Linked DNA regions of Homo sapiens. The protein of the gene in region 1 interacts with the protein of each later gene in a biochemical or structural test. Each region holds a gene or a part of one and is shown in the gene's direction. Other genes may lie near its edges.

The links. Proteins that work in one complex are often made in the same cells at the same time.
Region 2: the proteins of RAB11FIP4 (region 1) and RACGAP1 form a complex in vitro, tested with the Homo sapiens proteins (one study listed by IntAct).

What each region holds. Positions count from the first base shown.
Region 1 is NC_000017.11:31,520,648-31,527,677, forward strand, and holds part of RAB11FIP4 (rab11 family-interacting protein 4), read left to right. Parts: intron 1-518; coding exon 519-713; intron 714-1,267; coding exon 1,268-1,402; intron 1,403-1,712; coding exon 1,713-1,748; intron 1,749-2,864; coding exon 2,865-2,964; intron 2,965-3,245; coding exon 3,246-3,349; intron 3,350-4,442; coding exon 4,443-4,583; intron 4,584-7,030. UniProt on the Homo sapiens protein: Acts as a regulator of endocytic traffic by participating in membrane delivery. Required for the abscission step in cytokinesis, possibly by acting as an 'address tag' delivering recycling endosome membranes to the cleavage furrow during late cytokinesis.
Region 2 is NC_000012.12:49,988,634-49,994,496, reverse strand, and holds the end of RACGAP1 (rac GTPase-activating protein 1), read left to right. Parts: coding exon 1-83; intron 84-167; coding exon 168-366; intron 367-1,841; coding exon 1,842-1,947; intron 1,948-2,119; coding exon 2,120-2,252; intron 2,253-2,363; coding exon 2,364-2,499; intron 2,500-3,704; coding exon 3,705-3,813; intron 3,814-4,153; coding exon 4,154-4,229; 3' UTR 4,230-5,335; downstream 5,336-5,863.

The sequences.
Region 1 (7,030 bases):
CAGGTGCTCGCCACCACGCCCGGCTAATTTTTTGTATTTCTAGTAGAGTTGGGGTTTCACCATGTTAGCCAGGATGGTCTCGATCTCCTGACCTCTGATCCGCCCGCCTCGGCCTCCCAAAGTGCTGGGGTTACAGGCGTGAGCCACCGCGCCTGCCACTACTACAAATGTTTTAACAAACCTTTCAACAACTATTTGATATTCCACAATTTAATAATTTACTAACATTATAATTTAATAATTATAATTTGATCTAGCTGTAGCTAGACAATTAGGTTGTAAGCAGTGTTTTGCTACTGTGGAGTAGCATGGGTAGAATTGGTTTGAACTGTAGAAATGGTTTCTGTGGTGAGATGTTTCCCTTTAGATAGGGTCCCTGAAATGTACTTACCAGGTCAAGAGCTACAAACTTAATCGGTAGTGCCAATTAAAGGGAAATGCCTGTCAGTTTCCCCACCACGGGCTGTGGCTGGGGACCCATGAGTCCTCCTCTGACTTGGGTGCTCTCGGACCCTCAGGTCCCTGGTCCACACTCCATCCATGACGACCTCAGACCTTTCTACACACTCCACCACCTCGCTCATCAGCAATGAGGAGCAGTTTGAAGACTATGGGGAGGGTGACGATGTGGACTGTGCCCCCAGCAGCCCTTGCCCCGATGATGAGACCAGGACCAACGTCTACTCGGACCTGGGGTCTTCGGTGTCTTCCAGGTGGCCCCTTGGTCTGGGATGTCATTTGGGGTCAAAAGTTGCAGAAGCAATTTAAGCACATCCTAGGGGGTGGGGGGGTGCGAGTCCTGAGCTGGCCCTTTTCCTTTGTCCTCAGCTACTTGAGTTCTGCTCCTGGGGCTTGGGGTTGCTACCTTCGCACCCTGATTAGGGGTCAGGAGTTCCTCCTGAATTAACTGACCTAGGAGGCTGCACACTGGGGGCCACGGGGCTCTGTGTCATCTTGTATCCTAGAACCTCAGTGTTGAAGCATCCTTCCAAGTGACCCCTGTGATCCCTTCTCACCCACCTGAGTCACCACTTTCTCTGAAATGAGCTCGCAGTTTGCCTTAGCTGTTAAATGGGTATGCCTCACTGGCTTCTCTTTGAGCGTGTTGGAGAAGGGATGATCTGTTGCTATATTTCCACTCCCTGCCCCTCCCCCGTAACAAGGTTCAAAGGTACTGGGGACTCAAGTAAAGTCAGCTCAGCAGGGTGGTGTAGGGCACCAGACTGGACAGCAGTTAAGGTGGTGATTCCTTTCCCTCATGAATCAGTGCGGGGCAGACGCCTAGGAAAATGCGGCACGTGTACAACAGCGAATTGCTAGATGTTTACTGCTCTCAATGCTGCAAGAAAATCAACCTGCTCAATGACTTGGAAGCCCGACTGAAAAACCTGAAGGCCAACAGGTGAGGCCCAGGCCCAGCTGGGGGGTGAGAGGCCGGGGGGCCAGGGCAGGGCCTGGAGGGAGAAGCTACGGGCATGGCGAGGCGACCCCTGCTGTCTGGGCAGGTGAGAGCTCTCAGAGGAGGGTTGATCCAGGGGCTTTTTCTGCCACAGGAAATCAGGCTGTTTCTTCTCAGGACCAAGCTGACTAGTGAATTCCTTTCAGTGGGAGGGAAGAGCCTTGTCCTGCACTGTGGTGTCTTACAGCTAGGACAGAGTAAGGGAGTGGACTAGAACCCCTCTGTTCAATGACTGTTTCCTTTCTCTCTCTAGCCCCAACCGAAAGATCTCCAGCACGGCCTTTGGACGGTAAGGCCCGCCTCGAGGGAGGGCAAATTGAGTGCTGTCCCCATGCTGCCCACTGGCCGGGGCTCCCTGCCAGCAGCCCGGACTCAGCTGGTGCCCGCATGTGGCTGAGTGAGCAGAGGGGAACGAGGCCATCCCAGGGCAGTGCAGCCAGGGCAGCGTCACTTCTGAAAAAGAGGGGCCAGCTCCTCCCTGCTCTCTCCCCACCCCTTGTCCCTTCTTCAAATCCTAGGTCACCTTGACTTCAGGCAGGCATGCCAGGGATGCCCTGAGAGAGACAGAGCACCCCACAGCGTTCAGTGCCCTTCCTGCCTCTTGGAGCTGGCAGCCATACTCAATAAAGAGACCCCGGGTTTCCTGCAGGCGGGGATCTGGGCATGAGTGTGCGCCATTGGGGCTGGTCACTTTGCTCCGATTAAGTCCTGCGGCAGTTCAGTGTGGCCCCAGGTCCACACTCAGGGCTCTGGGAGCTGGCAGCAAGGGCCCAGGAGCTAGGTGGGTTGGCCTCTTGGCAGAGACCCTGGCTGCTGCCTATCAGGGAGCTGGAAGGGGATGTCACTGGGGGTGGCAGCTGGATTTTGCCTCAGGCACGGGTTAGCTCAGCAGGCCCAGTCCCACCCCAGCTCACTGCTCTGCAAGGCCTGGAGAATTCTCTGCCTTTGCCATCCCCCAGAGTTCCCAGAGACGTAGCAGGAGCCAGCTTGGTGGAGAGGCTCAAGCCTCAGGAGGCCCAGACCCTCTTCCAGGGCCATGGAGCTGGGCTACCTCCTTGGGGGCTTCCCCACTGGAAGAGGAGGGGGCTCACGTGCCAGCTGAGGTCACTGGGTAGCTGCAGGCCAGCATGCTGGCGTGAAGAGGGTTCTGAGGCCGCAGGAGAAGCTGTGCGTCATTGGCTGTGTCTGCCAGGGGACCCCGGGGGTCTGTACAGCCCATTTGCCATCCTCTGGGCGGGGTGATCCGCTGAGTTTGGCAACATTCTTCCTCTCAGGCTGAGTGAGGGCAGCCTCCTTAAAGGGGCAGACCCCCTGGGGTACTGGATGCTCGCCTAGCCAGTAGTGTGAGTAGGCCCCTGTCTCTGGAAGGCCCCTGCAGCCAGACACCCTCCTCCCACCCCTGCAGGCAGCTCATGCACAGCAGCAACTTCAGCAGCAGCAATGGCAGCACCGAAGACCTGTTCCGGGACAGCATTGACTCTTGCGACAATGACATCACAGAGAAGGTGGGCCTTGGGTGGCTGGAGAAGGGACTGAATGCATGCCTGCTCCCAGGGGAGATGGGGTGCACTCAGGCTACTGTCTGGGGACTTGGGAGACCCTGTACCTGCCTAGGAATTGGGGGCAGGTGGCCCTGGTCACGTGTTCCCCACTCCCCCACCCCACACATGACCGTTCTCAGATACACAGTGGTTTGGAGGTCCTGCTCATGAACCTCATGGCGTCGAGGTTCTCGGTTCTGTGGCCTCAGAGGTCTTCTCCACCCCACCCCGGCCCCCTGCTGCAGGTAAGCTTCCTGGAAAAGAAGGTGACAGAGCTGGAGAATGACAGCCTGACCAATGGGGACCTGAAGAGCAAGCTGAAGCAAGAGAACACACAGCTGGTGCACAGGTCAAGCAGGCAGCGGCGCTGGGGGCTCGGCCGTGACGCTGGGGAACAAAGGGGGGTCCATCTTGCTAAGACCTCCAGGAGGAGGCAGCCTCATGCCTTTGCAGCTCTGAGGGTCTGTGACGCATCAGCCTCTTGTCACATGGCCCTGCCCACATGTGGTGCCCAGGACAGGACCTTAGGGACAGGGAGACAGGTTGGAGCTTGACCTTGGCTCTAGGCCCAATGGATTCTACCCCCTGAGGTCTGAAGCCACAGGGCTGGTCCAAGATGGGAGTGGGGATCCACTGTGTCTCACTCATACAGTGACAGGAGCCTGACGTCCCTTCCTAGGGACAAGCTCTGCAGGGGACAGGCCAGTGTGAGCTGGGCGGTGGGAAGGGTCCAGCACTGCTGCTGATGGAGGTCCCCTGAGCCTGCCGTTCCTGATGCTGTCTGCAGTGGTGGATTCAGGGTTTAGTTGTCCTCACCAGATGGCATGACCCTTGGGGGACATACCCTGGCCAGGGGTCCGGTCCTCCAACTTGTCACAGGGCCCAAAGATGGGCCCTTTTGTACACCCCAGAAGGTCAGCCTGGTGGAGGGGCTGTTGCCAGTGAGACGTATCCCAGACCGAAATACCAACCAGGCTGTCACTGGGGTGCTCACATCTACGTGCCCCTGGCCCTGTCCCAGGTCTGGGGCAGACTTCAGGCCACCAGCCAGGATGTGCCTATTTTGGGAGTCAAGGTGCCCAATAAGCTGAATTATTAATCAGAGGGGTGGCCGGGAAGGAACAGCACAAAAAGAAGAGGTGAGGCCTGAGGTGGTTCCGGCCAGGTGTGGCTGCAGGGACTGGTGGGGGCGGTCCCTCCCTGTGCTGCCCTGAGCGCCCCACCTTCTGACTGCCAGGCCTGCCCCTCCATGGCATGTGTGACCGACACCCCCTCTATATGTGCGGTGTCCCCGTTCATCTCTCTGAAAGCTACTGGCCCACACGCCCTCAGTGGACATGCCAGTGACTCAGGGTCTCGGGGCCCAGGGTCCCCCGTGCCACAGCCTGGGTTGGGGTGAAATGGTGCAGGCCCCAAGAGCTTGCCCATTGCGCTGTCCTCAGGGTGCATGAGCTGGAGGAGATGGTGAAGGATCAGGAGACCACGGCCGAGCAGGCTCTGGAGGAGGAGGCGCGGCGCCACCGCGAGGCCTACGGCAAGCTGGAGAGGGAGAAGGCTACCGAGGTGGAGCTGCTCAATGCCAGGTGGGCCCCTCCACCGAGCCCCCTCCCTCAGAGGGACCCCCTGTCCTGGGGCAGCCCTGTGGGATAGGCGCTATCCCCATTTTATAGATGGGAATGTGAGGCTGAGGGGCAGCCTCTTGAGACTTTCCAGTAGTAACAGTTCCACTTTAATACCACGAGAAACACAGAGGCATGCTCTTCAGGAAGTTCGCTAAGGAATGTTCCCAGGAGCGTGGCTCACATTTGGTAATGCAAACCACACAAATGTCTGTCAGAGAAAAGGGCCTGGGCTGGGTCTCACATCCAGGCCTGGAGCGCCCCCTGCTGTCAGGTTCTCCCCTGACCCCTGGTGGACTGAGCCAGAGCCCCAGGGCCAAGGTAAATGGAAAACCCGGCTCCTGTGCCTTGCGTGTACCTGTGGCTTCGTCATTGGAACGTGACGCAGGCGGGACAAGGAGCAGCCCCGGGCCAGGGATCTGAGTTGGTCTCCCATTAGCTCCATGGCCTTGGACGTACTGGGTCACCTCCCTGTGTGCCCCACAGAGCGGCTGTGTGGGTGGGTGAGCCGATGTAAGTCCAGACCCTGCCCACGGGTGAGGGCTATGATGATGCCTCTGTGATGAAGCCCCTTTGCGGCCCTTGACCGAGGCCGAGGAGGCCGCCTGGGCTTCTGGCAGAGAGGACAGCTGCCCTGGCACTCCTCAGGCCCCCTGAGGCCCCAGTCTCCATGCTGAGGCTTCCCAGAGTTGCCGAGCCCCACCTGGCGGCTGGTGGGCTGCTGAGCAAATGACTGGGAGTTGGGCTCTCAGGCAGGTACCTCCCTGCCCCCGTGTCCCTGCCCCTGTGCAGTTTGGTGAGGAGACTTCCCAACTCCCCGGTGTCTGAGACCTGCTTTGCTAAGTTACCCACCAGGGGTTCATTTTACATTTTGACTCTATTCTAGAAGCTGCTGTTTTGCATCTGTTTCTGGAGGCTGGTGCCTAGTTAAGGGTGACTGCTCTCGCTCAGCCCGCCTCGGCAGCTGGCCCAAGAGAGGTGGCTGGGACACGGGAGGTGGTAAAAGACAGTGTGAACCTGGGCCACAGGACAAAGTGCAGAAAGCCAGCCCTCGGGAACTGTCTCCTAACGTGTGCCCGTCACACAGCTCCGGGGGCGCCATTCGTGTAAAATATCCGAGTGGTGTTCCCAGAGTCCTGCCGTATGCTTGGTTCCCTACCACTTCCACCCGCTTGGGGCCACCTGCTGGTGGTGGGGCTGAATTCCTCTCTGGAGCCCAGAGGGCAGTGGAGGCCCAGAAGCCATCCTTCCAGGAAAGAGGACATGATGGGGAGGTGGTGGGTTGAGAACGGGATGCTCTGCAGGAGTCACTGCCAGAAGTGACCCTGTTCAGTTCTGCTGCCACCGACGGCCCAACTCACCTGCACCTATTCTCAGACCATTTAAAACTGACCTGAGGCCGGGCACAGTGGCTCACGCCTATAATCCCAGCACTTTCGGAGGCCGAGGCAGGTGGATCACGAGGTCAGGAGATGGAGACCATCCTGGCCAACATGGTGAAACCCCATCTCTACTAAAAATACAAAAATTAGCCAGGCGTGGTGGTGCGCGCCTGTAGTCCCAGCTGCTCGGGAGGCTGAGGCAGGAGAATCGCTTGAACCCGGGAGGCAGAGGTTGCAGTGAGCTGAGGTCACGCCACTGAGACTCCGTCTCAAAACAGACAAACAAACAAAAAACTGACCTGAACACCCAGGCTCTGTCTTCTTGTGGAATCCCTTTAGGATTCCCTTTGTGGAATTCCTGTGTGAACGCTAACACAGAGGATTATTACTGTCAGAGCCCATGCCTGTGGTCATCAGAGGGAGGTGCAGTGAGCGCTCAGAGAAGAGCCCTGGATGAGATGCTGTTGGCGGAGAATGAAAAGCCAATATGATCATTGCCTTCAAGTTACAGAGTCTAACAGGAGGGCCCAGTCACAGAAGCCACAAGAAGACTGTTTCTCCATCTAGCAGAAAGACATCCCCGTGTTGTCTGAGGATCTGAAGGATGCATACAAGAAGAATCTGCGTTCCTACTCTCTAATGAATGTTTCCACTTATTGGAAAAATAAAGGCCACGTGTGGTGGCTCACTCTTGTAATCCCAACACTTTGGGAGGCCAAGGTGGGCGGATCACATGAGGCCAGGAGTTTTTGAGACCAGCCTGGCCAACATGGCAAAACCCGTCTCTACTAAAAATACACAAATTAGCTAGGCGTGGTGGTGCATGCCTCTAATCCCAGCTATTCAGGAGGCTGAGGCACGAGAATTGCTGAAGGAGTTAGAGGTTGCAGAGCTGAGATTGTGCCACCTCACTCCAGCCTGGGCAACAGAGCAGGACTCTGTCTCAAAAAAAAAAGAAAGAAAATAAGAATGATAATTTACTATTTTGCTTACAAATAGTCCTTACTATTTTGCTTTGGCTGATAGGAA
Region 2 (5,863 bases), on another chromosome or scaffold:
ACTTTGTGTCCCAGACTTCTCCAATGATCCCCTCCATTGTTGTGCATTGTGTAAATGAGATTGAGCAAAGAGGTCTGACTGAGGTAAGAGTCAACTGTAGGAGATGGTGAATTTGTTATTTGTGTTAATTCGGAGGTTTTTAAATAAAAATGTCATCTTGATAATAGACAGGCCTGTATAGGATCTCTGGCTGTGACCGCACAGTAAAAGAGCTGAAAGAGAAATTCCTCAGAGTGAAAACTGTACCCCTCCTCAGCAAAGTGGATGATATCCATGCTATCTGTAGCCTTCTAAAAGACTTTCTTCGAAACCTCAAAGAACCTCTTCTGACCTTTCGCCTTAACAGAGCCTTTATGGAAGCAGCAGGTAAGGGCAGATGTAATACTTGAATATGAATTCCTCCACGGCAGTAGTTTTTCTTACTCTCTTTATTTTTTTATTTATTTTTTATTTTTTAGACAGAGTCTCACTCTCGCCCAGGCTGAAGTCAGTGGCGCAATCTCAGCTCACTGCAACCTCCGTCTCCCAGGTTGAAGCGATTCTCCTGCCTCAGCCTCCTGAGTAGCTAGGATTACAGGCGTGTGCCACCATGCCTGGTTAATGTTTTCTATCTTTAGTAGAGATGGGGTTTCACCATGTTAGCCAGGATGGTCTCGATCTCCTGCCCTGTGATTTGCCTGCCTCGGCCTCCCAAAGTGCTGCGATTACAGGCGTGAGCCACCGTGCCCAGCCTCTTTTTTTTTTTTTTTTAAGACGGAGTCTTTCTCTGTCGCCCAGGCTGGAGTGCAGTGGCGCTATCGGCTCACTGCAAACTCCGCCTCCTGGGTTCAAGCGATTCTCCTGCCTCAGCCTCCTGAGTAGCTGAGATTACAGGCGTTAACGGTGTTATACCATGTTAGCCAGGCTGGTCTCAAACTCCTGACCTCAGGTGATCTACCCACCTTGTCCTCCCAAAGTGCTGGGATTACAGGCATGAGCCACCACACCTGGCCACCTTCCTCTTTTTATTAGCTCCTGCCTAGTACAATGCCTGAAACATAGTAGGTGCTCAAGTAGTTTGATGGATGAGTAACTGTATGCGTGTCACCCTTGCCTATCCTCTTGCTTTCTCATTACGTTATTGTGTACAGTGTTCTTCCTTTCTTTCCTTCCTCTCCAGTTAGGTTGGAGCTTTTTCAATTCTTAGAATATACCAAGTTTACTCCCTACCTTAAGGCCTTCACATTTGTTGTCTCAACCTGAATGCTCTTACATTAGATACAGTATGGTTTGCTCCTTTATTTCTTTCATATTTCTCTTCATATACCTTGTCCCCAGAAACACCTTTCCTGACAACCTTGTCTAGATTAACAGCTCTCATTTCTTTCTAGCTTCTTGCCTGCCTTGTTTTCTTCATTTATGTATCACTCTACCTGATAGGTATTTGCTTTTTGACTGACTCCACCAATAGAATGTAGGTTCCATAAGATAAGGGCTTTGTTTACTTCTGCTTTATCCTCAGCACTTGTACCTGGCACATCGTAGGCCCTTAAATATGTCTCATGAATGAATACCTTCTTGGTAATTGTAGTCACTGCAATTGTATGCCTGTCTGCCTAGCACATCAGTTGCCAACTGCTTTCCCTAACTGCAAAGGCCGATTTTTTAAAAGTTTTGACTTCTAATATTGAGCTGTTGGCCAGTATCCTGCTTGTTAATGAAACTAGAGTCTGATGTAGTCATGAACTAATCAGGAGTTTCAGAAGCTTACTGTATAGATGAGACTTTGTGGTCGATAACTTGGAAGCCCGCTGTCAAGGGAAAGAAGTCTAGGCCTCTTGGTGCTTTCTTTTCAATTACAGAAATCACAGATGAAGACAACAGCATAGCTGCCATGTACCAAGCTGTTGGTGAACTGCCCCAGGCCAACAGGGACACATTAGCTTTCCTCATGATTCACTTGCAGAGGTGAGTACAGCAGAAACTTGTTCTGGGAGTTAGGGAATTTTTTTCCAAGGGGAAGATAATGTGGGTTGAGTGTTTGGGAGTATGAGGGATGAATTGTTTTCTTATAGAATTTATATTTTGGTCTGCATTTAAGCAAGGAGCAAGACTTCTAATTTAATATTCTTTTGCTTAGAGTGGCTCAGAGTCCACATACTAAAATGGATGTTGCCAATCTGGCTAAAGTCTTTGGCCCTACAATAGTGGCCCATGCTGTGCCCAATCCAGACCCAGTGACAATGTTACAGGACATCAAGCGTCAACCCAAGGTAGGCAGGTGCGTGTGTGTGTGTATGTGAACTTGTGTAATGTGATAACTTGAAAGACAGTTGAGAAGCCCTGAGCTTTGGAAGTTTGCTAACAGATTTGCTGGCTTTTAGGTGGTTGAGCGCCTGCTTTCCTTGCCTCTGGAGTATTGGAGTCAGTTCATGATGGTGGAGCAAGAGAACATTGACCCCCTACATGTCATTGAAAACTCAAATGCCTTTTCAACACCACAGACACCAGATATTAAAGGTAAGGCCCAAGATGTGCTTCTTCAGGGACTTGACTCTCTCTTTAGTTTTAGTCATATGACCTCTTCCTGCCTTTGCTAGAGCTGTTTGAAAATTCTAACATTAAAGGAAAATTTGTATAATTCTACCATCGTAATTTTTTTTTGCTTTTCCATGTTCTCCTTTCTTTATCCATATGGATATATGTTTTTTAAATATAGATATAATAGGCTGGGCATGGTGGCTCACACCTGTAGTCCCAGCACTTTGGGAGGGAGGCTGAGGCGGACGGATCACAAGGTCAGGGGATTGAGACCATTCTGGCCAACATGGTGAAACCCCATCTCTACTAAAAATACAAAAATTAGCTGGGTGTGGTGGCGCATGCCTGTAATCCCAGCTACCAGGGCGGCTGAGGCACAAGGAATTGCTGGAACCCAGGAGGCGGAATTTGCAGTGAGCTGAGATCCCGCCACTGCACTCCAGCCTGGTGACAGAGTGAGACTCTGTCTAAAAAAAAAAAAAAAAAAAAAAAAAAAATATATATATATATATATATATAATAGTTTAAATATAATTCATTCTTATTTCACTTAGCATGTTGTGAGAACTTTTTCTCATGTATAATCTTATTTATCATTTACTTAAATGTTCTAGTAGGTATTAACATTATTTTTCAATTTTTCATAATTACAAGTAATGCTATAGTCAATATAGCATTTCTCTTAATGATAAATTCCTAAGAGTGGGATCACTGAATTAAATGGCTTGAACATTTTTATGTGTCTTGGTATGTTTTACCAACTTGATTTATTAAATTTCTTATAGGCTTTTGCCAATTTATATTGCTAACCAACAATTTTATATGAATAGGCTGGTTTCACTCCAGTCTCACTGGCATTGGAGACCCATTCTTTCATTATTGCAAGTTCCTTCTAAGGGAGCATATTGCTTCTTCTAGTATAGCTAAAAGTCAGATGTTTAGATGTTAGATTTGTGAAGTGTGGAGTTAGAGAATGGCCTAAATCAGGACGTGTCAGCTATTCATTGAGTTCAAAAGATACACTAGTGTGTTACAGAATGATGACAAAAATGATCTCTGGGACTTTGCTAGATGTCTAACCTTAGCTCTTAAGTGCTTCAGAGGGTAATCAGCTTAAAACTAGCCATCTAAAAAGATGCCTTCTTTTTTCCCACCTCTCTTAAAAATATGTCTGAACTTTGAAGTGAGTTTACTGGGACCTGTGACCACTCCTGAACATCAGCTTCTCAAGACTCCTTCATCTAGTTCCCTGTCACAGAGAGTCCGTTCCACCCTCACCAAGAACACTCCTAGGTATGCAGAATTGGCCTTCCTAGGAAATAAAAAACAACTACTTTCTTAGACTTCTTATTATATTGAAGCTTATTGAAAGAAAAATTGCATTCGATTTTAGCTAGCAACTAGACTTTAAAAGGGAACGTGGGGCTATAAGGATTCCTTCTTTAAAAAGGTTCTGAAAGTCTTTACTATTTCCCCTCTCTCGTTGTTGGTGACTAAGAATACTTAAGCAACTATTGCAAAATAGTTGTCTAGGGTTTCCTACTTATAATGGGTTATATCAAGTAATATTATAGTTGTTTATTCAACCATTTTTTATAGAATATTTTTCCAGTTCATTCTCTTTTTATTGTAGATTTGGGAGCAAAAGCAAGTCTGCCACTAACCTAGGACGACAAGGCAACTTTTTTGCTTCTCCAATGCTCAAGTGAAGTCACATCTGCCTGTTACTTCCCAGCATTGACTGACTATAAGAAAGGACACATCTGTACTCTGCTCTGCAGCCTCCTGTACTCATTACTACTTTTAGCATTCTCCAGGCTTTTACTCAAGTTTAATTGTGCATGAGGGTTTTATTAAAACTATATATATCTCCCCTTCCTTCTCCTCAAGTCACATAATATCAGCACTTTGTGCTGGTCATTGTTGGGAGCTTTTAGATGAGACATCTTTCCAGGGGTAGAAGGGTTAGTATGGAATTGGTTGTGATTCTTTTTGGGGAAGGGGGTTATTGTTCCTTTGGCTTAAAGCCAAATGCTGCTCATAGAATGATCTTTCTCTAGTTTCATTTAGAACTGATTTCCGTGAGACAATGACAGAAACCCTACCTATCTGATAAGATTAGCTTGTCTCAGGGTGGGAAGTGGGAGGGCAGGGCAAAGAAAGGATTAGACCAGAGGATTTAGGATGCCTCCTTCTAAGAACCAGAAGTTCTCATTCCCCATTATGAACTGAGCTATAATATGGAGCTTTCATAAAAATGGGATGCATTGAGGACAGAACTAGTGATGGGAGTATGCGTAGCTTTGATTTGGATGATTAGGTCTTTAATAGTGTTGAGTGGCACAACCTTGTAAATGTGAAAGTACAACTCGTATTTATCTCTGATGTGCTGCTGGCTGAACTTTGGGTTCATTTGGGGTCAAAGCCAGTTTTTCTTTTAAAATTGAATTCATTCTGATGCTTGGCCCCCATACCCCCAACCTTGTCCAGTGGAGCCCAACTTCTAAAGGTCAATATATCATCCTTTGGCATCCCAACTAACAATAAAGAGTAGGCTATAAGGGAAGATTGTCAATATTTTGTGGTAAGAAAAGCTACAGTCATTTTTTCTTTGCACTTTGGATGCTGAAATTTTTCCCATGGAACATAGCCACATCTAGATAGATGTGAGCTTTTTCTTCTGTTAAAATTATTCTTAATGTCTGTAAAAACGATTTTCTTCTGTAGAATGTTTGACTTCGTATTGACCCTTATCTGTAAAACACCTATTTGGGATAATATTTGGAAAAAAAGTAAATAGCTTTTTCAAAATGAACATGAGGCTGGTTTTCTTGTCTTGCAAGGTAATTTTCAATGCCTTTTAGAAAATCATTTCTGGGGCTGGGCTTGGTGGCTTATGCCTCTAATCCCAGCACTTTGGGAGGCCAAGATAGGTGGATCACCTGAGGTCAAGAGTTTGAGATATGGCCAAACTCTGTCTCTACAAAAAATACAAAATTAACTGGGCGTGGTGGTGCACACCTGTGGTCCCAGCTACTTGGGAAGCTAATGTGGGAAAATTGAGCCTGGGAGGCAGAGGTTGCAGTGAGCTGAGATCGTGCCACTGCACTCCAGCCTGGGTGACAGAGTGTGAGACCCTGTCACAAAAAAAAAAAAAGAAAAAATTACTTCCTTCAAAGTGTCTTGACTCTGTTGTTCATCCCCATTTCCCACTCTCTGGACCCACCCCAGGCTTACCACCACCGGGAGTTTGTTTCTTCATTTCTCATCCAGTCTCTCTTTGTCCAAACTGGAGTTGTAGAGTTGTCCTATGCCTGTTGTCTTGTTTAAAGAAACCACAGTC